Linked DNA regions of Homo sapiens: all the other regions are linked to region 1. The links come from fine-mapping of genetic effects on gene expression. A gene starts in region 1. Each other region holds a variant in brackets. All regions are shown on one strand. Distances are between the middles of the regions.

Region 1 (8,000 bases):
GTTTCCATCTCTGTTGGGGAGGGGAGCAGGGCATGAGGTCGATGGAATCCCATGAAAGACTGGGGCATTGGAACCCAGAGCCTCTTTGTTAGCTGGGTCATGGGCACATGACACTATCAGTTTATTATCTTTTTGTTGCCTTCCAGATGGGTATAGATATAGATGGGGAACGTATATTGTCTAACTGTGAACTGAATTAAAGCGTTAATCTAATGCAAAATGGCTCACATGGCCTCCAGACCCTAGATCCAAATGGCTTGGGTAGAAACCTGGCACCGTGTCTTCTTAAGTAGCTCTCTTAATCTCCCCGTGCCTCCGTTTCTTCACAATGACTGGATCTGACGAGAGTGAATTACAGTGTAATTATAAGGGTTTTATGTATGACTAAATATTTTGTCAAGTGCTTAAAGTAGTATCTGGTACCAGGAAAGCACTATATATATGTTTGTTAAACAAAGGGTGGGGGCTTGTGAAGGGGTTTGGGGGAGTGGAGAGGAGCACTGAATTTTCTAGGTGTTCTCATAATCCGGGAGCAAAACTTTAAAAGCCTGGCCCTGCATTTCCAGCGTGGGGACAGCTTTTGCGGCCCCCTTTCAGAGACTCGAGGGAAACAAGGTATTCTATGGCAGATAACTTGGGAAGCTCTTGGGGCAGTCTGTTGGTGAAGGGAGGGACAAATGTCACTCCAATTCACAGTCCATGACATGCCTGTCCTTAGTTCCTTGTCACGGGGGCAGCTGCTTCCAGGGGTGAATTTGAGGGTCTCAAGCACATCGTGAGTCCGGCTCCCTGAAACCAGGCTGCTCCCCGAAACCAGCCCAGCTCCCTTTCACCTGGGTGTTGGTTTGCCCCTGAGCATGCCTGGCCTTTTCCTCCGCTTCCTGTATCCAAGGGAGAGGAGCCTTGTGTTGCCTGGGGTGACCTAGTTCTGGGGTTAAATTCTGAAATGACCTGGCTCCCAGAGAAGCTGTGCTGGCCCGCCTCAAGCCTGAGGGACTGGGGAGGCACCATGTTGCCCACCGGAAGCACTGCACAAGGAACTAGCAGGATCCTAAGCTTTGGAATTATACTCTCTACCTACAGGATGTTTCCTACATCATGTGACACTCTGTGTTCATATGCTGGTGTTCTCTCTTCTGAGTGTGGGAACTCCAAAGAGAAAAATATTGTTCCTCCTCTTCCTTGGATGGTGAAACGGCTTCTAGCTTTCGTCACTCCTGCTGGTGACAACCACGGGTTCGTTCCAGAAGCCATTACTGAGCACTTGCTATGTTCTGAGTCAGCTAATATTTAAGCTTCATTCTTGCCCCTGAGTGGGGTGCATGCCACGCTGCCCCCTCATGAGTGAGCCTGGCCCAGTATGTGTTGCCAAGTGAGATCATCTGTCCTTCGGGGAGGCTGTCTGAAATCATGTCTAATGTGACCTGCTTCTTTTACATTTTTTAGCTTTCTGGCTCCCTCAAAACAAACAAACAACAACAACAACAACAACAAACAGCCATTGTTTTGAGTCCAAGTGCTTCAAAAGGCTCCTGCTTAAGGACTGTGCTGTGGTAGACATGGCGGTTCCTTCTAGCCCACATGTGGCCTAGAACTCTGTCAGCTCTGTCAGGCACTAGTCCCCGGGGAGATGGCCCAGCGTCCATGGGGTGCGCTCCAGCTGCTGTGGAAAACACAGACGGGTCATGAAGCTGATCTCGGTGGCATCTTTCCGCAGCAGCTGTGCCCTCATGGCAAGGCCAGTTTGGTGCTGCGGGAAAGCTCTAAAGCCAGATGGCGGCCTCGTCAGGGGACCTGGACCAGCGTGGGCCCAGCAGGAGGCCAAGCATCACGTGAGGAAGGCTGGAGAGACCCTTCTCAGGGAGGACTGCACCAGAGGCCCCCAGCGGTGACACCCACCCCTAGAGGAAACCATGGAGGGAGACAGCCCCCACCTTAATGGCACCACCCCCAGGGTCCAGGGAGGCTGCCATGCCCCTGGCCCCGCAGCTCAGCTCCTCGGGGTCACCTGTTCCCTCTGCCAGCCACCAACTGCCATTCCAGGATATGGTGTTCTCACTGATAAAGCCATTCTGGGCAGATGACATCTCATCCCGTTGTTGGACGGGCGGACGTTGCAAAAGGCGGCTTCCTAGGCCAGGCCTGCAGGAGCTTGGCCTGGGATGGTCCAGCCTGGCTGGTGGGCAGCCCCGACCTTCTGGCAGCTGCGGGACCGCCTGGGCGCCCCCCTGCCCGCGCCATCCCACGCCCTCCTAGCCGCTGTTTGCGGTGACTCACCTCGGTTCCCAGGAACGTTGTTATTTTTGGCCCTGGTGTTATTAAGATTGTGCCCAGATTCCCTGCAAATCGGCCACTAAGCAGCATGGGGCCCTAGTGAAAGCACGCGGAGAACAGAGGGGGCAGCGCGCTTCGGGAGGCTCCCCGGCCTTGGAGAGCTCCAGCCTCCCCGGGGGGCGGAGGGGCCGGCCAGAAGGACTCCTGCGCCCCACACCCGCAGCGCCGACAGGGCGTGCGCCCTGGCTCAGCGCTCCCCGACTGCTCCCAACCCAGGGGCACCCAGGGCCGAAGCTTCCTCTACAGAGCCTCCCCCTCCTTAGGAAACAAAACAAAACAAAACAAAAACCAGGAAAGGCAAATTGTGTAGATGCCACTAAAAAGAAATTCCCGCTTAGTATTGCTTCCCCTGCACCCAGCGACTTTTAGACAAGCAGAAGAGGAGATGCCCTGCCCGCGACTAAACCGGACTCCCTTTCATTTACTACCCTCTCAGCGTGTGGCCTGATGTCCAACTCTGGGCTCTGAACTCAGCTCTCCCCGGCTGCTCTCGACCCCGGGGCAACCAGGGGTCCGCGCCGGCCGAGGCCTGGGGAGCGGGGCCTCCTGGGGTTGGGGGAGGAGGTGCTCTTGTAATCTGCGGTCCCCAGGCGGGCGCCACCCCTCCGCCCGCCCGTGCCGGGAGCGCCCGGCCCGACAGCAAGCGCCTCTGGGGCCGATAAGGCCCTCGGGGGCCTGGCCCGCACGTCACAGGCCCCGCAGAGGCTGCGGTGAGTCCGCCAGCCCCAGCTGCTCCTCCTCAAGCCCCCAAGGCCCTTCGGCGGGCCCCTGCTGAAAGACCGGCATGCCCTATTCTGTGGGCTTCCGCGAAGTGAGTACTGGGCGGCTGCTCGGGTGGACGGGGAGATGTCAGGAGGGGGCCACCCAGGCCGCGCCAGTAGGCAGCACGCGAGCAAGAGCAGCTTTGCACACCCCACCCGCCTCGCCTCCCCGTGGGCTCCCTGCCTTAGCATAGCGGCACATCGACCTTGTAGCTGAAGGCAGCAGGTGGACTCTGCCCTACTCGCTGAAGCCAGTTTCATATTTTTTACATCCAGAGATTTGCTGTCAAATTGAGTTCCAACTACCTGGGTCTCTGAATTATGTCCTGTCAGCAATAGCGCTGGGGAGGGATGGTTTTTGGATTATAGTCCAAATCTATTGAGATCTTAGAGGCTTTCCTTTGAGTCTGCTAAACTGCGTTTTGTAGGTGTGTTATTACAGGCTGCGGGGTGGGCCACCCGGCTAGGGGGCTGTCACTGTCATTTGGAAGGGGACTTTGGCTTGTTTTCTCAAAGACTCACGGAGGCCGGTGGTCTCATGGTCACACCTGCTCGGTTCTTTTAATTTATGTTGTTAATTCATGGAGAGAAATATGTCTACGAAGGAAGGGAAAGAGCGGCGGCGTGGCCTGGGGAGATAGGCTCTCATGGATATTTTTCAAGTGATAATGGCGCGTTAGCAAGGCCACTCCAGCCTTCTTGTTCTCCCTGTGTAGATAGAACCCGTCCTATCTCTGCCTGGCAGCACGGCCAGCCTGTGCCATGTGTCAGTGTCCTTTGTTGGGTACGGTTCTTAGTTTAGTGATGGATTCAGAGCCCAGAGTTGGACATCAGGCCACACACACGCTGAAAGGGTAGTAAGTGAAAAGGAGTCTGGTTTAGTCGCGGGCAGGGCATTTCGTCTTCTGCTTGTCTAAAAGTCGCTGGGTGCAGAGGAAGCAATACTAAGCGGGAATTTCTTTTTAGTGGCATCTGTACAATTTGCCTTTCCTGGTTGATTTTTTTTTTTTTTCTAAGGAGAGAGAGGCTCTGTAGAGGAAGCTTGGGCCTCCCACTTTAGTTCCACCAGCGGCAAGCAATTCAGGTTAAGTTGGTAGAGTCTTTTTCCTCTTGTGGCACCACTCTAGGGCAGAGGTTCAGGGTGAGTCTTGGAGACCTGATCATAGCCAACTTTGGAAGGAGGCAGGTGACTGCAGGTGTCCCGTGCAATGTGTGAACTGTCTTCAGACTCAAACGCAAGTGTTTTGCAGGAATAAGGAATGGCCGATGGAAAAAATGGGTAAAATTAGCCTTCTTTCACAAATCAAGTTACAGCCTCAAGCCACTTTTCTCTGTGTCTCAGTTTTCTTGTCTGGGAAATGGGTCTGCTGTGAGGCTGAAGTGAGTTACTCGGTTATGAAAACATTAGCAAAGGGGACAGAGGCTTGAAGACGTTTATTGTAACCAGGATCCATAGACTCAACTCACCCTTGACTTTATGGGTCAATTATAATTAGTTTCTTCTCTGTTATTGGTATATAATAATTTACATATTTGTGGAATACATGTGAGTGTTTGTTTCATGCATAGAATGTGTACTGACCAAGACAGGGTATTTGGGGTGTCCATAGACTTGAATGTTTATCATTTTTACGTGTTGGTATCATTACAAGTCCTCTCTTCTGGTAACTTTGAAATGTACACGGTATTGTTGCTATTATAGTATAGTCACCCTAAGCTGCTATCAAACACCAGAACTTATTTCTTCTATCTAACTGTATGTTTGTACGCATAACCAATCTCTCTTCATTCTCTTGCCCCCCACCCACCCTTCCTGGTCTCTGGTATCTATTATTCTATTCTCTAGGTCCAAGAAATCAACTTTTTTAGCTCCTATGTATGACTGAGAACATTCAGTATTTGTCTTTCTGTGCCTCGCTTATTTCACTTAGCATAATGACCTCCAGTTACAACCACGTTGCTACAAATGACATGATTTCATTCTTTTTCGTGGCTCAAGCAGCTGTAATTAGTTTTTATATTTATTTATTTAATAATAATTATTATTATTTTTAAGACAGAGTCTCGCTCTGTTGCCCAGGCTGGAGTGCAGTGGTGTGATGTTGGCTCACTGCAACCTCTGCCTCCTGTATTCAAGCAATCCTCGTGCCTCAGCCTCCTGAGTAGCTGGGACTACAAGTGCGTGCCACCATGCTTGGATAATTTTTGTATTTTTAAGTCTCAGTCTCACCATGTTGGCCAGGCTGGTCTCGAACTCCTGACCTCAGGTGATCCACCCGCTTCAGCCTCCCAAAGTGCCGGCATTACAGGCGTGAGCCGCTGCGCCTGGCCTATAATAGTTTTTAAACCCAGGTTGCCACCTCTCACCCCAAAATGGTTCTGCCAGTGTCTCTGCAAAACCAGCTGACTTATTTTGAGATTAATCAAACTGCAATATATTTAGAAAAGCAGGGTTTCAGTTGTTGGTGTTGCCAAAATGAACAGAGAAAATAAGAGTGTTTTCTAAAGGTGAAGTGACTAAAAACCTTTGTCCTCCAGGTCTGTTTAACAACCTTTACGGCCAGGCACGGTGGCTCACGCCGGTAATCCCAGCACTTTGGGAGGCCAAGGCAGGTGGATCATGAGGTCAGGAGTTCGAGGCCAGCCTGGCCAATATGGTGAAACCCCGCCTCTGTTAAAAATAAAAAAAATTAGCCAGGCGTGGTGGCGTGTGCCTGTAGTCCCAGCTACTTAGGAGGCTGAGGCAGGAGAATCGCTTGAACCTGGGAGGTGGAGGTTGCAGTAAGCCGAGATGGTGCCACTGCACTCCAGCCTGGGTGACAGAGTGAGACTCTGCCTCAAAAACAAACAAACAAACAAACAAAAACCTTTAACAAGCATTTATGAAGCACCTATTGTGTATTAGGTCCTGTTGGGGCACCGGGAATATAGCAGTGAATAAAACTGACAAAAACTCTGTCCTTGCAGAGCTTATTTCCCAGCAGGGGAAGGAAACAGGCTAAAAACAAAATAAAGGAGTAAACTGCATTCTGTTGAAAGGTGAAAAGTCAGTCCTGTTATTGAGGGAGAGGGAAGCGGGCAAGGGAAATAGGATGTGTGGGGAGTTCTGCAACTGAAATAGGGTACTCTGAGACAGCCTCATTGAGGTGCCATTGGATAAAGAGGTGAAGGAAACAGCCAGGCCAAACTCCAGAGGAAACAGCACATGCAAAGGTCCTGAGGCAGGCGTGTGTCATGGGAATAACCGGGAGGCCAGTGTGGTTGAAGCAGAGTGAGGCAGGAGGAGCAGGAGGAGGTGAGGTCAGAGAGATTGGGAAAGGGGCACAGGTGCAGAAGATGCAGGGCTTTGTACATTGATGTGGGGATTTTACTTCTGCCTTGAGCGAGATGAGAAGCATTAGATAGTATTTGTATGAGGCAAATGGCACCATCTGACTTCTGCCTATACCTATGACTTCCTAATGCCTTTGAAACCAGGGATTCACGTTTTGTAGGGATGGGCTACCAAATTAAACCACCTGATATAGTGTGGCAAATGGTGTTATCATGCAATTGTAGTACAACCGTTCTCAACTTGCTTCCCTCTGGGATACATAGGGCTGGTTGTTGACATAGTTCTGCATGACATATTTCATGGCTATACCTGGGTATTAATAATCCCCCTCTCTCTTACACGTTCCTATTTAATGAGAAAATAGTGCCATAGATGCTCCCTACTTAATAATTTACCACTGGTTATATTTAAAAGGAGATGGGAGCCACTATAAAATCACAATTCATATGTAGTATATGAATTTGCAATCACAGCTGCAGAAGATCCTTCATGGTCTTCTTGGGACCTTGGCATGGATAAAGCGGAACAAGGTTCTGGAGCATGAGCTGTCAAGAAAGCTCGGGTGTAAGTGTGCAAGAGCAGAGCTGTGATAGAGGGGAACCTTGAATGTGTTCTAAGTTTTAAAAAGCAACAGTGGTCTTCTTACAGGTGGTCTCACTCCCTCTAATCCATTCTTCACACACAACCAAAGTGCTGTTTTAGAAGGGCAAATCTTACCACTTCACTTTCTTGCTTTAAATCTTCAGTGGCTTCACAGTGTTCTTAGGACAGTGTAGACTCCTTCCTGAGATGCCTCCTGTCCTGATCCTGCACTGTTGTATTTATTTTTTTTTATTGTTTGTTTGTTTGAGACAGGGTCTCACTGTATTGCCCAGGCTGGAGTGCAGTGGCACAAGCATAGCTCACTGCAGCCTCCAACTCCTGGGCTCAAGTGATCCTCCTTCCTCAGCCTCCAGATTAGCTGGGACTGCAGGTGTGTGCACCTCCACGTTCAGCTAATTTTTGTATTTTTTGTAGAGACAGGGGTCTCACTATGTTGCCCAGGCTAGTCTTGAACTCCTGGCCTCCAGTGAGCTTCCCTCCTTGGCCTCTCAAAGCACAGGGTTTACAGGCATGAGCCACCGCACTCGGCCCTGGACTACTTCTTATTCAGAACTCCCACAATAATTGCTCCAGGACACTGTCAGTTCCTTCAACAGGCTGCACTTGGACATTTTTATATAATATTCAGAAACTCTACATGGGTGGGACTCAGGCTTGCCTTGTTCACTGCTGTGTCCTTGGCACTTAGCACAGTGCCTGCCACATGGTAGATGCTCATTAAATGTTGGTTGCATTCATGAATGAACAGTAAATTATTTGCAGAACACCTCGTGGTTGATGACTGCTTAGCAGTTTGCTCACAAACCTGCGATTGAAAATTATTGCTCTAGGGTTTGCGTGGATGACTTTTTAGATACTCTGCTCTTGGGATTTTTTAAAATTCATAAAATAGTTTCTCCTTCCTCTGAACTCTCATTGCACTTCATCAGAACCTCCCTCAGGGCCCTCCTCATTTTCCACACCTCCCC
Region 2 (10,239 bases), 150 kb after region 1:
GCATGAATGACTGACTGTAGACGCATGACCTCCAGGCTTCAATCCTGCCTCTTGCAATGACAGCTGATCTGTCGGAACCAGGACACAAAAGCAGCAAGAAGCGGGGAGAGAGAGGGATAGAAAACAAGCGCAGGAGAGCCTGCGAACGCAAAAGTGAATGAGGGCTTTTTGTGGCTGGGGATGGGTTTTGGTTTTGGGGTTTTTTTTTTAAATTGTTTTGACTTCGTACAGGGTACTTTTTCCCAACCTCATCTGTCAGAAATCCATGTGGGCTTCCTGGAAAGAAAAAAAAAAAAAAGAAAACTAGGCATGAAATCAGTTTAACACCTTAATCTTAAGCCATGTCCTCATCTGCCCACCCTCCCCAACCCACATACCTCCATTCCACTTGTGACACCCCCTCGACTCCCTGGTGACGCTCCTCCCAGATCGCTCTACATGACATTCAGGACACACACACACACACACACACACCACTCGCCTCCACTGAATCTACACACAGATTTTACTGTGACTTCTGAAGCTGTATAGACTCTGCTGTGGATAAATTGGAATTTTTTATGTTGTCTCTCTCTCTGCCAATTTCAATACGAATCATCTTCCAATGGAAAATCATTACCTTGAAGAGTGCATTCGGGGTTCCTTGTGTTAGGGACTTAAGAATCTGAGGCGAGGACCCCCAGGCTTACCTGTAGGACTCAAAGGGAGCCAGGACCCCATCTGAAAGGGTCTCCTCTCTCAGTTGGGGGACAGGCCGGTGGCTGACCCAGGATTGCACCAGCATGTCCATAGAGAAGAGGTTTTCTATGTCTTCAAGCACTATATCATAGTCCGTGTTCAAAGTGTAAACTGTACAGTAATCAGCCTTGTGTATATGAAAAACAATAAATACTATGCAAACCAATAGAAACATTTAGCAGTACGTACAGAGCCTGACAGCGCAGCTCCTGAGGACTTCTGCGGCTGCAGGAGAAGGAGCTGTGGCCTGTCTTTCAGTGAAAGAGGAAGGAAAGGAGTAGGGCTAGTGAATGTATCTGCCAGGTCTTAGAAGTCAGGACCACCCAGGGTCTCCCAGAGTGAACTTGGTGCTCTAAGTCCAGGCAGCCTGCAGGCTGGGGACCCTGGGTGCAGGTGCCAGGCTCGAGGCTGTTCCCTGTCCTGCCTCAGTGCCTCCCCTCTGCCCAGCCCCTGTGGCCTCTTGGAGAGGCGAGCCAGGGGGCTCCCCGGACCGCATGGCCGGTGAGAGTAGAGTCGGAGGCGGAGAGCCTGGACGCCCAGAGGCCGGGGCCAGGCTCTGGGTCAAGGCAGGAAGGAGACAGACAGCTGGCAGTTCCTCGCCTCGGTGCCATCAGGGAGGAGCCTTAAGTTCCACTAGAGCCTCCGGCCCAGGGAGGCCAGAATCAGCACAATCCCGGCCCCGCCCTCGCGGCGGGCGCCCCCAGGGCCAGGAGAGAGAGACAGGGCTGGCTCCTCTCGCCCCTGGAGCCGCGGTGTGGACGGCCCGGCCCCGTCCGCCCCGCCGCTCTGCGGGAGTGTCCTCGGGACACACTTAAACCTTCCAAGTAGCACAGAAGCCCCCTCCACGTCAGAGGCCCCCTGGCCGCGGGGCCTGTGAGCGGAGAGGGGCCCTGCTTCCCACACAAATCCGCCCCGGTGCACCCCCGGCCAGGCAGGCCCCGGGGCGGCCTAGGCGCCTTGTCGGCCGGGGGTGGGGCTGCTTTTGCTTCCTTTAGAGGGGCGGGCAGGGAGAGGAAGCTCTAGCTCCGGGCCTGAGTTTCCCCGAGGCTGCGTCGGAGGAGCTGCAGGGCGAGCCCGGACGGCTGCCGTCTCCGCCAGAGGCCACCCCGGCCCGGCCTCCAGGGCGCAGAGGCGCCCCCCTCCATCCTCCCCCATCCCGGGGGCCACGGCAGGGGGGCCGCACAGCGCGGCTGGGACCGATTCGGTGACGGCCCAAGGAAGCTGGGCTCAGGGCTCGCCTCTCCCGCCTCGATCCTGCACCTTCCTCTCCCAGGTCGCTGCTGCAGCCAACCCAGTAGCCCCCTTAGCGCCCCCGCGGACCCCGCAGCTCCAGACTCCGCTTTGGCACCTCTGCTCCGGCTGGCATGGCTGCACGCTCCGGCTGCTAGTAGGAGCCGTTAGGGGAGGAGTTTGGGGTCTCCACACGATGCCTAGAGAATGCTGCAGTCTGCACATTAGACGCTTTTTAGAAGTTTTGAAATTACCTTGATTTTTTTAATTGTTATGAAAATGGATCTTTTCTTGACTCTCCCACATGCTCTGTTATGGGAGAGAATCCCCTACCCTACTCTGATGTATAGACCATTCTCCCTTCACCAGCCGAACCAATGTCAAAATTAATAAAGAAATGGACTAATGGCACAGGGCTCTATCTCTCCTTCCCGCTCGTCTTTGGGGGGTTAGGGGTGCTGAGGCCAGCGTAAAGCCTGGGTTGTGATGTGAAGGAGTCTATGGGTGGGGCTCAGGTCCCAGAGAGCCCGCCAATGCCCAGTCCTCCCAGAAGCCTGGACAACCCTTTAATCAGGACCACCCACCTGAGAGATGCCTCCAGAGAGGTGGCAGAGTAGCTTTCTGTTCCACCTGATGGCTCCCATGAGATGGGGAGAAGTTGGGGGTCTGGGGAGGGGCCACCACAACCCACCAGGGTTCTTGGCCAGGCCCCCAGCTGGCATGCACTGAGGGGGCCCCCCAGCATTCCCTAGGAAGGCATCTGGCCCCAGTACTCAATGCCATTCAAAGTTCAAGAACTTGTTCTTGCTGTAGGGAAAAAATTGCCCTATTCCTAACTAGTTGCTAACACTTCCTGCAAGGCTGGTCACCAAGCTGACCTCAGTTTCCTCATCTCTCTAATGGGAGAATGGATTAGGTGGTTGCTAAAGTCTCTTCAGTTTCTCATCCTAGGGGCGCCAGACACCAACGCCTTTGTCAGGCTTGGCATTAATTAAGAATCAAATCATTGGCTGCGGCTTTCCTGCCACATAAATTCCCATCATGAGGGGATGACGGAGTCACAATCCCAAGGCCCCTGGAGCACCCCAGCCCCACCCCACTCCCAGCCTCTCTCCTGGAATCGGACAGGCCGTTCAGGCCAGTGGGCAACCGCAGCAGGTCATCTGCAGCACCCATGGGGCTTTTAAAAATGCAGTTTCAGAATCACAGTTGCCTGGGGGGAATTGGGTGGTGACACCG[G/A]GAACCAGAACCAGGTCTACCAGATGGCTGTGGCACGCGACCTGGTGGCAAAGCCATCTCAGACGAAGACGTAGCTCTTTTCTCTTTAAACCAAATTTGTAGGGAATCATTCCACACCCTTTGTGAGATCTTTCTTGCATAACCTAAATCCCTGTGCTACAGAGGGTCAACTTCTGCATGAGAAGGAATCCTGCCCTGAGCCTTGGGTCCTCTGCTCCCCACTGAAAACCAAGACGGCCTGGAAACCCAGGAGAAGCTCAGTGAAGCAGTGCCTCTAGTCTCCCACCTACCAGGGCGGCCTCTGGGGAGTGAGAGAGCAAGCCCTGCAGAGCCCACGCCTGGTCAGGAAGGGCTCTGGGGCCACCAGGCACAGAGAGGAGCAGAAGTCCATCTGTCTGGCAGTCACAGTCTTTCCTAGCATTTTACATGTTCAGGCCAGTGGCATGCTAGTTTCCAGTTTTAGAGAAAAACTGCAGGGAAGAATCCTGCCTGGTCCAGAAATCACCCATGTACCTGGAAAGTGGGCTCCAATTCCTCTATACCTTGGTTTTCCTGTTTGTAAAATGAGAGCTTCCCCCAATAGAGCCTTGTATGTTGTAAAAATTTATTCGAGAAAAAAAAAAGCATATGCATGTTCTGTGATTCAGCCCAGTCCACTGCATCAACTACTAACTGAGCACCGACGGAGTGCCCGGCACGGGGCTCCACCACCCTCTCAGCCATCAGGGATTTCAAACCCGGGCACCACGCCAGACAGAGCATGGCCATTGCTCCAGCAGAGGCACAAATGAGGAAGAGATTCTGATAGGGAGGTCACGGAAGGCCGACCAGAGGTGGAGGCAAGAACATGCGTGCAGGGCGGCCCTCTCTTCAGCCTCCTGCAGTTGGAGGACTCACACCCCGGCACTGTCAGGGCTGCCTACGCCCCGCGCTGCCCTCTTCCCAGCAGGCTCCCACCCTAGGCTCTCAAGCCAGCCACAGGGACTTGCATCCCCCAGAAAGCAATGCCACTCAGCCTCTTACCCCATCCCCGCACTTACCCCCATCTTATGCCACTTACCCCATCCCCGCATGCGGAAGGGAAGGAAGCGGCTGCGTTCTCCTGTGGAGCTTGGACATGTGCACATAAAGGGGCCGGCGCAGCTCCGGACAGTGGCCTCTGAGTCCAGCCTCCTCTTCCCTAGGGGAGCAGCTGTAGGAACAGTGACTTCCAATTGCCTTGGGAGCCTCCAGGGGCCCCCAGACGCTCACCTTTTCCTAGATGCTAGACTTGCGGGGAGCAAATGGACCCTCCGGCGATGAGTAGGGCTTCTAGAGCTAATTCTCTGTCTCTCTCTCGCGCGCGCGCGCATACACACACACACACACGCGCGCGCGCGCGCGCGCGCGCACACACACACACACACACCCTGGCTGATTGTACAGTCAATCTTTCAAAGTGCAATTTGTCTAGGAAAAGCCAATGTGAGGCCCGTGTGCGCCCCGACCAATGGCGGCGCGGCTCCGGCGGCTCAGCCAGTCTCCGGCCTGTATTCTAATGGGCCGTATCTTTATCAGGGAAATGTTCCTTCTCTGAACTTAAAACTTCTCATGGAGGGTCCCCCGACTCAGAGGCAGAAAGGGGGTCTGAGCTGAGGCTTAGGGGGCCACCCTGTCCGGCCAGGGCAAGGAGAGAGGCCAGGAGCCCTGGGGAGGCCTCCCACCTGCCCCGAGCACCTGACTTCCGAGCAGCTGATCGGGTGCCGGTTCCTGGGCCAGGGCCTGGCCCATGCCTTAGGTGGGAGGCAGTCAGGAGCTCGGAGACGGTCCTAAGCCTCCAGGCCTGCCATGAGATTTGGGGCTAGAGAGTGGGCTCTTGGGTTTTAGGGGCCTGGAGAAGCCTTCCCTGTCCTGACTGGGAGATCATGGAGTCCAACCTGCAGGGGACGTTCCTGCTGAACAACACGCCGCTGGCTCAGTTTCCGGAGATGAAGGCCCCGGTGTGCCAGTACTCTGTGCAGAACTCCTTCTACAAGCTCAGCCCCCCAGGGCTGGGCCCCCAGCTGGCCGCCGGAACCCCCCACGGGATCACGGACATCCTGAGCAGGCCCGTGGCTGCGCCGAACAACAGCCTCCTCTCCGGCTACCCCCACGTGGCAGGCTTTGGGGGGCTCAGCTCGCAGGGGGTCTACTACAGCCCCCAGGTAGGGAATTTTTCCAAGGCTGGGAACGAGTACCCGACCCGGACCCGGAACTGCTGGGCGGACACGGGCCAAGACTGGCGAGGCGGGCGGCAGTGCAGCAACAGTGAGTACGGGTCCTCCCCAGCCACCTCCCGGCACCCGCCAGGCCCCGGGGGGCAGAGGACGAGGAGGGGCCTCCTCCCGGGCACCCTGCACCTCCGCCCTCTCCCCCAGTCGCCATTAACCCCTGGACTCGTAGCCTCAGCTCAGTGCAGGCTGAGTTCCACCCTCTCCTCCTTCCCATCCAGCAGTGCTTGGACACAGGTGTCTGAGCCACCCCCCTCACATGCCAGCCACCTCAGCTGCCCTCCTAGGGCCCCCGGCAGTTCCAGATGTAGAGAAGGCCCCACAGCCCACGCCTGCCCTGCACGAGGTCCAGTAGGCAGCCCAGCTGGCTTCTGCAGCCCAGGGCCCATGCAACCACTTCTTCACCCAAAGCAGGCAAATGCTACCCCCGTGAGGAAAATGTCCTAGCTCACCTTCCCAGAGAGCCCTGGCATCACTCAAGGGTGCAGAACGCACCCTGACCCCATCCGGGTCCAGCCTTTGAGCCAGGGGGCTGTTGCCCACCACATCCTCGGGTTTCTAGCAACAGCAGCCACACCAAGTAGCCTGTCTCGGGGAGTTGCTGCTGAGTCCAGCTGAACTTGGCCTTGGCTGTGGGGAAGCAGGGGGCCTCTTCTCAGCCGACCCATCCCTCAGCCAAGGTTTTCAGAGGGTGGGCCCGTGATGCCAGTCAGGGTTACTGGAGGAGGTGGCAGGGCAGGTGAGGCTCTGCTGGGAGGCAGGGAGGTGAGAGTTTTTGGAATCTTCTCCGTGCCACCGAAGCCCTGCCCACGTCAGGCAGGGGCCTCCATTTCTGTCTGATCTCCGGGCTCTCCTACGCCAATGGGGGCTTGGGGCCAACCTAGGGAACCCCAAAAGCACACCTGTCCCCCCATTTGCTACTCTGCCTTGCCGGTCACAGTGCCTGACAGCCACCCCTCCATGGGCTGCCACCCATCGCTGTGCCCCTGGGGGTGAAGGCCTCCTCTCTCAGATCCTGTTTTAGGCTTGGCTTCAGGGGTGCTTTAAGCCTCAGCTGACTCTCTCTTCCCTCCATCTCCCCCTCCCCTCTCCACATCCCACACACCACCTCTTCAGTCCTGAATGCAGGTACACACACAGGGACATAGCCAAGAAAGTCAGTGGCTAATGAAGGCAAAGGCAGAGAGACTTGAACATGATCTCTCAGGAGGGCTCTTCCTCTCTCTGTGCCTCAGTTTCCTCACCTGTAACTTGAGCTGTCAGACTGCACAGAACGAGGCCTGACATGTGGGAACCACTGCCCACAGCTCCTTCCCGAGCCTGCTGCCCTGGCCAGGCTGGGGGTCAGGGTCTCTGGCCTCTGTGCCAGGCTCTCCAGGGTGGTTGAAGCCACATAACTTCCAGGCCTGGTGACATGGGGAAGTGGCAGCTTGGGGCGTCAGGTTTGCCCCTCCCTGGTTTCCTGGAGACCTGGGAAGTTGAGTCTCAAGAGCAAGGAAGTTGGCGGAAGCCGGGGGTGGAGGGAATTCACAGGCCCTGGTCCCTAATTATAGGAGGAGGGTGACCTGAAGGGACATCCCTGGGACAGAGAGGGAACTCCTGTTGCCCCTCAGGGGAAGGCAACATCAGCGAGTATTGAGAACTTTAGACAGAGAGGCATGAGGCTCTGCTGCCCCTAAGTCCCATTACACTAGGGCAGCTGCCCTCTCGGAGCCCTGCCCATCCAGGCGGGGCAGAGGTCACAGTCACTGTTCCCCAATATCAAGAATGCTGCTCAGGGGAAAGGAATCTTGGTGTCCTGGAAACCTCTGCAGGAGGGAGAGGGGCAGGCATGGTGGTTGCCCTGCCAGACGTGCCTAGCCGCAGGGTCCCCACTTATTCTACTAACCCCACACTTCCTTCCTCCTGCCAGCCCCAGACCCCCTGAGTGACAGCATACACAAGAAGAAGCACACCCGGCCCACCTTCACGGGGCACCAGATCTTTGCCCTGGAGAAAACCTTTGAGCAGACCAAGTACTTGGCTGGCCCCGAGAGGGCACGGCTGGCATACTCACTGGGCATGACCGAGTCGCAGGTCAAGGTAAGTCTGTGCGGGAGATGGCACCTGCCCTGCAGGGAGGAGCCTGCCGGACAGGAGGCCACTGCGTTGGAGAGAGGTGGCCACACAACGCAGCCCCCCAGAGGGCAGCTGTCCTGGTGTCTGGGCACTGCCTGCCTGCCTAACCCTGGAGCCTGTGGTAATTAACCATAGCCGGGAAAGGCTGAGCCCCATTCTCAGAGCCTTATGTGCGGCACCTCATTTCATCCTCTCAGCAACCCGGGGGGTCGGTATCATCACCCATTTCGCAGATGAAGATCAGTGTCTCCCGGCTGGGAGAGCTGGGAGAGCTGGCAGAGCTGGGGTTCAACCCCAGATGTGGGGGACTCCAACCTGAGGCTTTCCCTCTCCCCCCGTATTTGGCCAAAAATTCCAAGCACGGTCGGCAGTCTCTGGCCCAGATTCATGCTTGATGCTCCAGTCAGCAAAAGGAGCTGACCTCAGTTTACCAATCCTTAAGATGAAGACAACGTCTCCTTCTACTAAGCAGGATCAGATGGGCTTCAGGGGCCTGGAGCCTTGTCGCCCACGCCAGGGCTAGGGAGGGTGAGCCCAGGCTCTCCCACTCCACACGCAGGGGCCCCAAATGCCCCCTAAATAGACCCGGGGAAACCGGTTTCTACCGCCTTAGAGTCTGGGGGCAACTTTCCCCACTTTGATGCTGGCTCAGTGACTCGGCGACGGGCCTAAGGATGCAGCAGGGGCAGCTGGCACCTGGGTCTAGGCTTTGCTCAGGGCCCTGGGGCCTCCCCGAGCTCCAACCCGCTGCGCCCTCCTCATCAGCCGCTCAGCTGCCCTGGGGCGAGAGCTGGGGGGAAGAAGCAGACACTCCTGCATGTCTTTCTGCTTCTGGGGTGCGTTCCTGCCCTCTTCAACTATCCCAAGCAATGGACCTACGTTACTTTTCTAACTAACTAGGGGAACAATTATTTATGAAGTAGGGTGAGGGTCTATGAAGCCCAGAGTAGGGACTGCTCATAAGCACCTTCCAATGAGCACCGGGGCTAAGCCTTCCACCCGCGCACTCCGCATCTTCCACCGAGTTCCCAGGTGGAGGAGGAGGAGGAGGAGGAGAAGGAGGAGGAGGGGGAGGGGGAGGGGGAGGGGAGGGGGAGGGGGAGGGAGAGGGGGAGGAGGCGGCGGTGGAAGAGGAAGCAAATGGTGGGGGCGGGGGGCGGAGGGGAGGGCTGCCGCGCTCACGTTTTTAAATTTTATTGTCCTTCCCCAACAGAAACGTGAATGTGACAGTCACTCCGTTGTTGAGCCATTTGTTTAGCTGTAAAAGCAGGATGGCTGTTCTCGCGTCCCGTGCGCGCTGTGCCCCTGTGCCCTTCACATTCTTTCTCATCGCAGGTGTGGTTCCAGAACCGCAGGACCAAGTGGCGGAAGAAGAGCGCCCTGGAGCCCTCGTCCTCCACGCCCCGGGCCCCGGGCGGCGCGGGTGCAGGCGCAGGCGGGGACCGCGCACCCTCGGAGAACGAGGACGACGAGTACAACAAGCCGCTGGACCCCGACTCGGACGACGAGAAGATCCGCCTGCTGCTGCGCAAGCACCGCGCCGCCTTCTCGGTGCTCAGCCTGGGAGCGCACAGCGTCTGACGCCCGCCGTCCAGGCCCGGGATCCTGGCTGCAGCCTGCGGGGGGACGCCGAGGAGCCTACCTTCCCCTCCCCTTCCCCACGCTCCTGGGGGCGCAGGGACTGAGTCTTTCTTTGGATGAGGGGCGCGTGGAGGAGGAGCAGCAGGTGCAGGGGAGGAGGAGGGGAGGCGGGGGAGGAGGAGGAAAAGGAGGGAAAGGGGACAGGCATCCTAGCTAAGGGAGGAGGAGGCCAGGAGGGAGGCACAGCACTCCTGAGACCTGGAAGCCGCTGCCCCTTGCACCTCCTCGGGCCTCGCCTGCCAGTTCTGCAGATTCACAAGTGGACAGAGGACTAAAATGACCAGGCTCTGCAGCCAAGAAACTGGCTGTGGGGTCCCAGACATGCCACTGTGATCCAGCTGTTGGGGCGGGGGGAGTGGGCAGGACTTCCCAGGGAGGGAGGCAGCTGGCTGGGGAGTCAGAAGTCCAGAGTCTTGGGCCCCAAGCCAGCTGCTGGCTGCAGAAGAAAAGACAGGTGAGTGGCCAGGTGCACTCCTCAGACCTGTGCACAGGAAGGGTCCCACTGGAGGGGCCAGAGCTGAGCACCTAACCCAGGCTGCAGGAAATCTGCCTCCAGGAGGGGAAGTGGGACATCCCAGTGGAGAAAAAATGCCCCTGACACTGCAGGATGACGGCCCCTGAGCTGCGGAAATCCCCCTGGCCTCCTTTCTCCGATTTACCCTCAGGGTCAATACCTCTGAGACCGCTGTGCCCTCCTCATCCTGACAGCCGGGGAAAAGGGGAGGGTGCAGGGAGAGGGGAGGCGGGGACGGTGTGCCCAAGGGCCACCCACCTGGGCATCATTTGGTGCTGATATAAGGACAGGCCCACCCAGAGAGAAAAAGCATCCCACCTGGGGAGGAAAGGAAGGGCTGGGAAAGACCCCAGAACGGCACCCCTCCAACAAGGCAGGAAGGGAGAAGGACAGCCCCTCCGGCTGGGTGGAGGATGCCAGGAAGGGGCTGAACCACGGCCTGCTGGGAATCACGGCCCTTCCTTTCCTCAGATCGCCTTGCGGCCTGGCACTGGAGCTGGTGCTGACAGG
Region 3 (8,000 bases), 24 kb after region 1:
AATTTCAGTTTTCCCCTCTACCCTAAAAATACCTTAGGTTGCAGAATGGTGCAAAGCCCAGGGCCAGCCCCTTTACTGTGTTTCATGCACCACCCCAGGCATCAGGCATCATGTTACTCCTGGAGGACTTTGGACAAATGACTTAATGTTTTTGTGCCTTAGCTGCTTCTGTCAAATGGGAATAATAATAGCTGTTAACTCGTAGGGTGGTTTTGAGGGTTAAATGTGTTAACATCTAACATGCTTTGAACAATACCTGGCTCACACATTGTAGCTATTATTATTGTTATTATTAGAAATAAGGTCTCACTCTTTTGCCCAGGCTAGAGTGCCATGGCAGGATCATAGCTCACTGCAGCCTTGAACTTCTGGCCTCAAGCGATTCTCCCACCTCAGCCTCCCGGGTAGCTGGGACTACAGGTGCGCACCACCATGTATGGCTAATTTTAATTTTTTGTGTGTATGGAGAAACAGAGATCTTGCTATGTTGCCCAGGCTGGTCTCAAATTCCTGGCCTCAAGTGATATTCTTGCCTCAACCTCCCAAAGTGCTGGGATTACAGGCATAAGCCACCATGCCCTGCTAACTGTAGCTTTATTATTATTATCTTCAAATCAGTTCCCCCTTCCTGCTCTCACTTCTGTATCTCATTGTCTCTGCGGTGAATCATCATGGGCTAGAGGGTGTGGACGGGGCCTTCCAGGCCTAGTTCCCAATGGATGGTTCAAGGCTACCTTCTCCATGTAAGGGAAGCCTTGCTCCAGAGGCTGGACAAACTCCAGGGGCACAGACCCCAAATTTCAGGGTCACAAGCCCCTCTGGAATCTTGGGCAGGTCTCTCTGGCTGGCAATGGGCCACCCATCCTGGCTCTGTCCCTTGGGGCAAATTGTTCAAATAAAGGAGGAGTCTCAGGGTACCCCCTGGTCGGCCCCGCCTGCTCCAGATGGCAGCTTATATCAGGCAAAGTTGCATTTCTAAGGAAGGGTGGGAATCTTTCTTCATTGCTGAGGAAGAGCGTGCCATGCAGGGCTGTCCAACGCCTGGGCATCCTTCAGAAACTCTGGAGCCATGGGGTTCACTGCCAGTACTTAAGCCTGTTTGGCAACTTGAAAAAAAAAAGAAGAGTCCCTATTTTCCCTATTAGCACCTTCCCAATGATTTTGATTTTGCATTTTCTCCAGTATGTGCTCCTCCTCCTCGCATACCAGCAGGCCGCAGAGGAAGGTTTCCCTAATGTTTGGAAACACTGGAGGTAGTTTAGTAAATGGGCCCATTCTGGCAGTGCCGCTCATCCACATTTTCCAAAATGTGTGTAATTCCACTCTAGTCTCGGCTCCCCAGTCCACAATATGTTCTGAAGTGTCAATTCTAAATGCAGCCCATTCCTTGCGCAGTGGGGAAATGTGGCATGCTCTGCGGCGTGGGCCAGGGTGCTTGGTGATGCGGGTGCACTTGGAATTCTATTTAGGCACCCACAAGACACCCCAATATCTTCCCACCCTCAGCAGAAAGATGTGAACTATTGAAGAGCTGTCTGCTTCGCTGCCTTGGGACTGAGGAAACAATTGCTCTCTTGGGCTTGGACTGGCAATTTAGGACTAATGGAGATTGTGGGGAAAGGATGGGCAGGGCAGGTTGGGGTGTGGAGGCTTTTTTCTGCAGCACGGCCCTGGCCCTGGGATGGGAAGCACCTGAAACTTCCCTGCCCAGAAGAGGACAGTGGTCCCCAGGCTGTTTCTACAGGGGCTATAATAGCACGTGGGGACATTGACAATTTAGTCAACTAGCCCCGAACATCTGATTCATTTAGAAATCTGAGTTGACTGGATTCCAATCCAGCTAACGTTTATGGAGCCTCTGTTGTGCGGCCAGCATTGTGCTTAAACTCATGTCTGTTGTTTTCAGCATGACTGGTGGGAGCTCCTACCTGGTTGACATGGGGCACAAAACTGCATCATGTTCTGCTCAGGAAACATGTATTGAGTGGTGCTTCTGTGCTAGGCTTGGGGATTCTGAGTTGAGCGGAGATGAGAAGAGACCTCGTCTCCTACTTCCCTGCCCAGGGGGTCCTGGGTGGTCCCAGAACTATTCAGCAGAAGCATTTGCTTAATCTCAAGGCATTTTGTTCTTTAGGAATTCTGGTTCTATTTCTTATCCAAAAAGAGACACAGATACTGAAGCTGAAATTTGTTATTGTACATAAAACATTCTGTTCGCTTCATCTGGTTATTTGATGGGAAACAGTGGCGTTTGGATGCCTGTTTATTTCTCACTATTGGGAAAATAATCCTGTCCCCCGCAGGCTTGCCACTTGGGTCCACTCCCCATCCTTCTCCAGCACCGGGACTGGGTTTCTGGGGAGCTGGGCACCGTGGCCGTGGGGAACTTAGACTTTCCTTGGATCTTCCTGTTGTAGATTCTCGGCTGTGGGCTCTGCAGTGCATGCAGGAGGGAGCGGGGGTTCCAGAACATGTGATTTGAAAGTAGGAAGAAGGGGGAGATGCCGGATATATCAAAAGCACATGGAGTTTTCACACTGGGGGTAGAGGGATTTAAAAAAATCTCAATTCTGAAAAAGAGACCCGGTGTGCAAAACCCTTTCCAACTCACGAGCTCGTTAGGAGTCGAATTCCACCAAAGCCATGCCAAAGAGTGGGCCTGTAACCCAAGAGATCCCTTTGGAAGGACAGTCAATATCTGATCCCAGGAATAAGGGGAACCCCTGTGTGTGTGAAGAGAAAATCCTAGGTTCAGCTGTGCCTCCCCCCTTCCCTCCCTCCTCCAGGGATCTCGGGTTTAATGTTGGCCCTTTTTGGAATCCACACAGCACCTTTCTCATGGGTTTAAAAATAGACTCCAGGGCTGCCAACCCTCTTAAAAAGAACATGATGGAGATTGGTGCCAACTCTGTGGGGCCTGATCCGGGCTCTGATCACCTCCCTAAATAGACCCCCGCACTTGCCATCCCTTACTCCAGCCAGGCCGGGTGCCCAGGACACCTTAATTGACCACTGGGCACTCCCTACACAAAGTTAAATAGAAAAACAACCAAGACTCCATTCCTCTCTCCCTTTCTTCTGTCACTGCCATTAAGGTTAAGAAGGAATGACCAGGTTTAGGGGGGGTCAGGCTGGATTTCTGATTGAATTCAATGTGACATTTGTGTGGAACATTCTGTAAAGTTCCTTCCTAGTTAATAACATTTCCCCAACAGCGATGCTCCTGGTGGCTGACACACTCCCCAGGGTGGT[C/T]GCTGGCTGGGTCTGAGTGGCGATAAACCAGCCTGCCTTTCTCGGTAAAGGGTGGAGTTCCTGGTACCCACCCTTATCAGTGGTGCCCAGAGTCTCTAGGAGCAGGGGCGGCTCCTTGGGTGGGTGAGGATGGAACAGATGGAAGGAGGGTCAGGAGGAGAGCCCAACGGGTCAGCTGGCCACAGCCAGCAGCAGGACACTGCAAGGGCAGCTGCGGACAGGGAGCGTGGGGGCACAACTGAGTCCACACATTGTTTCTTTGCTGCAGAGAATATGGGCATTGAAAAGGGTGCATTGTAAGCCCAAGAGGTCTGGGTGCAGGGTAGAGCTTTGAGATTTCTTGGGATCCTGATCTTGACCATGGATGTTTGACCCTGGGTAAGCAGTGATGAGGCCTTGATTTTCCAGTGTTGAAGCAAGATCAGTGACAACCCACACCTCTGGGGGAGACATTAACCTTTGACAAAAGCTTTAGTCGAGAAGAAATGGAGGGGAGGAGGAAAAAAGAGCATCAGCTGTCATTGATAGAGCACTTACCAAATGTGCCAGAAGTGGTGGTCAGCATTTTACATTATTCTCCCAATATTGGAGAGATGGGTGAAGCTATTTTCACTTTACTGATGAAGAAATCAATGCTCAGAAAAGTCATTTCCTTTATCAAAAGCTGCACAGCTCAATTGTGGGAGACCTACTGATTTAGAGCCTCTTAAGAGGCTGTCCAGAAAGCAAATAGTGTTGTTGCTATTGAGTTCTGGGTTTGAGTTGATTGCATAGGAGGGTTAAGCGCGACGGTCATTGCCACAGGGCCTGAGCTGCCAGGATGCCCTTCTCTCGAATCCTGGGGCTGCCCTGATCTCAGCTCTGATGTCCCTGTAGAGAGGAGCCACTTCATGTCTCTGACTGGCCACCATTTGAAGCAGCCCGGACCTGTTCTCCCAAATCATCCTGGGGAGGCAGAGTCGCCTGAGAATCCCACTCGCATGGGATTCTTTGCTGCAGGCTTGTGTTCTTCCAGCTCGTGAAATCCCTGCAGGAATTGACAGCAGCAGCAGCCCATCAAGTGTCCCAGAGTCCCTGTCTATACTGAGAACAGCCCACTGCATCAAGCCAGGAGCGAGCTGGGGGTTTAAGTGCTGCATAGTCTATTTCTTCCCTTTCTTCTCTCCCACATCATCCCTGCTTGGCATAGCTGCATGTGGCCCAGAGGACAGAACCCCACAGGCGAGGCCTCCAGCTTTTCATTATGCTTGTCTGCAGAGAGACCTGCAAGGAGACAGTAGGTAAAATATTTAGCAAGACGGGAAAAGCCTGAAGACTCCATGAAGCTACAGGCTAGAACAGTGGCCTGTGTCTGCCGAGAGTCTTTAGCCTTTTCTTCAGCCCATCAATTCCTTTCTGGTGGTTTGTTTTGATCTCACTAGCAAGTTCTTAGCACACTAAATGCCTACGTTAAAACGTGCAGCCTTGAAGTATGAACAAAATGCAGATGGAGAAGCAGGATGATTATTTGTGGTCTAAGGGTGTGGTTGTGATGGAAGGTTGAGGGGACAGTCAGTTATGGGGAAAAGAACAATAGTTTAGCTTTCTGAATCCCTAGGGCCCAAAGAGACCCTTCCAAGTCGTACAGCTTACCCAGTGGTCTATATGCCAGATCAAATGTTGAGGTTTTTTTTTTCTGCCATCCTGAAGGATCTCCTGCAAAGATTAAACCCTTTCTGAATAAAGAGTTCTATTAAGTCACGTATCTCTTATAGCTGGAAAGTTCTTTCTGTGGAATCTAAATCTTTTCCATAGCAATTGAACCCCAAGACTTACAGTTTCTTTATGACTCATGGAAGTGTTGGGGACATCATTCTTCTAACACCAGTCAGTAATCACTGTGTTTAGCACTGCCCGGCACTGTGCCAGTCACATAGAGGAGTAGGTGGGGAAAGCAAGGGAGAGGGACTGGGAATTTGGAACATGAGAACCAAGCTGTCTCTGCCTGGGAGACATTTAGAATTCAGTCCTGGTGGCAGGCCACCACACCTGGGACTGGGCACCATATAATTAGCTCCAATGTGGCATTCCAGGCTGCAGTGCTGGAATTTATGTTTCAAGGGCTCTCTCCCTTAGCTTTATCATCTCAGCTCCTTTAGCCTCAGGCCTCACTGAGCAACATGTTTGTAGTTGTGTTCTTTCTCCTCCTCTTGGGCCTTGCCTGACTCATCGCCTGCCTAAGTTTTTCAAAGCCTCAACCCTAAGGAGGTCATGACTAATGTCAAGAATTCTTGGCAGTTCTGAGAACTAAAGTCCTCTGATAATACTTCAGCATCTTTCCCATTACACTCAGAGTGCTGTGGGTTGTATTCAGCTTCTGGTCCACTATGACTATCACATCTTTTAATTTGTGATTGTATATAACCCACAGCGTTGTATAATATGAAGAAAGATACAGCTTAAGAATTATAAGAACCGAGTACCAAAATGCGACTGGGAATGTTTTGCTACTGAGCTTTGAATATTTTACTTGTAAGATCTGTTTATCTCACCTTTAAGACAGATATTCTGTATAGATAGAACTCTCAAAACTCAATAAGAAAACAAACATTCCAACTTAAAAATGGACAAAAGATTTGAACAGATGTATCACCAAAGAAGATATATAAGCTGGGCGCAGTGGCTCACGCCCGTAATCCCAACAACATGGGAGGCCGAGGCGGGCAGAGCACCTGAGGTCAGGAGTTCAAGACCAGCCTGACCAACATGGAGAAATCCCATCTCTACTAAAAAAATACAAAATTAGCTGGGCATGTTGGTGCATGCCTGTAATCCCAGCTACTCAGGAGTCTGAGGCAGGAGAATCGCTTGAACCTGGGAGGCGGGGGTTGCAGTGAGCCAAGATCATGCCATTGCACTCCAGCCTGGGCAACAAGAGCTAAACTCTTCCTCAAAAAAAAAAAAAAAAAAAAAGAAAAAAGAAAAAAAAAAGAAGATATATAGATGGCAGATAAGCACCTGAAAAAGGTGTTTAATATTATCAGTTATTGGGGAAATGCAACAGACCCCTTCTCTACAAAAAATTTTTTTTAATTAGCCATGTGGTGCATCTATTAGGATGTCTGAATTAAGACAGATCATACCAAGTCTTGACAAGGATGTGGACTGGCCGGCAGGAGGCAGGGAATACCAAGAGGCATGAGGAAACTTTTGGAGGTGATTATGCCCATTATCTTATGTGGCCATGGTTTCAGGGATATACATATGCCAAAACTTAGCAAATTGTACATTTTAAATGTGCAACTCGTAGTGTGTCAATTAATCCTCAAATAGTTGCTAAAAAATAGTATCTCTTTCAGTTCATTGTGCAAGTCAATTGCATTCGTGTTTTTAAAAGTATTATATATATTATTTACTCATCTGAGCGGGGAATTTTCTCTCTCTCTCTCTAAATATTAATGTTGGAACAGTGCATTAGAATCCCTTGAGATATTCCACTGGGCTGTGATCAGGGATGTTCCAGTAACCATCATTTATTAATTGGAGTTCTCTGTGTAGAGGATTCTAGCAAATCTGGAAGGTGGTTTTCAGAGGTACAAGGCGAGAGACCTGGAGGGTGAGCTGGGCTTTAGCAGCATGTGCCTGGGGAGGGAAGGGGCTGTGTGACTTACATCCAGACAGGCTGCTGCCTTCGAGAGGGTGCCCATCCTCAAGTTCAGCCCCAGTGCTGTGGAGGATCTTATGCCTGGAGAATTCTCACATTGTCATCTTCAAATACCAGTTTTTTAACCCCCATGGGGAGGAGTTGTATTATTACATTTCAGATCCCTCTTTTTGGCAACACCCTGGCCTTTTCTCTTGATCTTTGATTATCCCACTTCCTTGGGATGCCCCCTGATTGCTGCATAGCTTTGAAGCGTACCTGGCTTTGTAACACACTCTCACAGTATTTTCTTCTTTTTTAATTTTTATTTTTTTAGAGACAGGGTCTCACTCTTGTCACCTGGGCTGGAGCGCAGTGTTGCAATCATAGCTCACTGCAGCCTCCAACTCCTGGGCTCAGGTGATCCTCCTGTCACAGCCTCCTGAGTAGCCAGGACTACAGGCATGTGCCACCTTGCCTGGCTAATTAATTTTTTTTTTTTTTTTTGTGGAGACAGGGGGTCTCACTATGTTGCCCAAGCTGGTCTTGAACTCCTGGCCTCAAGCAATCCCCCCGCCTCAGCCTCCCAAAATGCTGGGATTATGATCCTTCAAGATCATCCCCCACATTATCTCTTCCTGGCGCTGAGTACACTATTGTTAGGAATCTTGCTGGTGCGGCCAGTGGCAGGGCTTTGGATCAATTTGGCTTAGAACCAGTTGGACCCACCATTTACTAGTGGTGACCTTGGTCTCCACCCATTACCTCCCTGGGCTCAGTTTCTTCATTTATCCAACTGTAGTAGTGTTGCCTACCTTATGGGTGGCTGTGAGGATTAAATGAGATAATGCAGTATGTCCATCAGCTAATAGGCGCTGAGCGTGCTAGTTCCTCACCAACGCGCAGCTGTACTGTACAATGTCAGGGGACAGCGGGAGAGGAAAAGAGCATTTGGTATTGTGTCTTGACTGTGACTTGAAGCCAGCAAGAAGCCGGCTTATGATACAAAACACCTATGATCTGAACAAGCCATATTGCCAGGGGCCCAGTTACCTGACACTGCTTTTACTTACGGTTCCCTCATCCCTCTGAATTGAGCCTACTCTTGATGATGTCACCCCTAGTC

The links. PIP is the estimated chance that this variant, and not a neighbour inherited with it, causes the effect.
Region 2: its variant is fine-mapped to the expression of ANK1 in whole blood (TOPMed, PIP above 0.99).
Region 3: its variant is fine-mapped to the expression of ANK1 in whole blood (TOPMed, PIP above 0.99).

The regions. Positions count from the first base shown.
Region 1 is chr8:41,792,657-41,800,656 of GRCh38, reverse strand. ANK1 (ankyrin 1) reads left to right here and starts at 3,035. Exons shown (of 43, transcript NM_000037.4): 1 at 3,035-3,145. The coding sequence starts at 3,119. LOC105379392 (a long non-coding RNA gene) reads right to left here and starts at 2,879. Exons shown (of 3, transcript XR_949708.3): 1 at 2,278-2,879; 2 at 229-1,663. RefSeq lists enhancers at 763-1,962, 7,401-8,000.
Region 2 is chr8:41,645,365-41,655,603 of GRCh38, reverse strand. It overlaps NKX6-3 (NK6 homeobox 3), which reads left to right and starts at 4,787. Exons shown (of 3, transcript NM_001364841.2): 1 at 4,787-5,493; 2 at 7,369-7,538; 3 at 8,910-10,239. The coding sequence starts at 5,112. The coding sequence ends at 9,155. ANK1 (ankyrin 1) reads left to right here. Exons shown (of 43, transcript NM_000037.4): 43 at 1-2,379. RefSeq lists silencers at 1,450-1,789, 1,810-1,879, 1,900-1,949, 8,815-9,044 and an enhancer at 1,477-2,270. The variant G/A (reference allele first, on the strand shown) is at 3,208.
Region 3 is chr8:41,768,182-41,776,181 of GRCh38, reverse strand. The region is part of intron 1 of ANK1 (ankyrin 1); the gene reads left to right. Among named protein-coding and RNA genes, the nearest start is that of ANK1, 25 kb to the left of the region's middle. The variant C/T (reference allele first, on the strand shown) is at 3,253.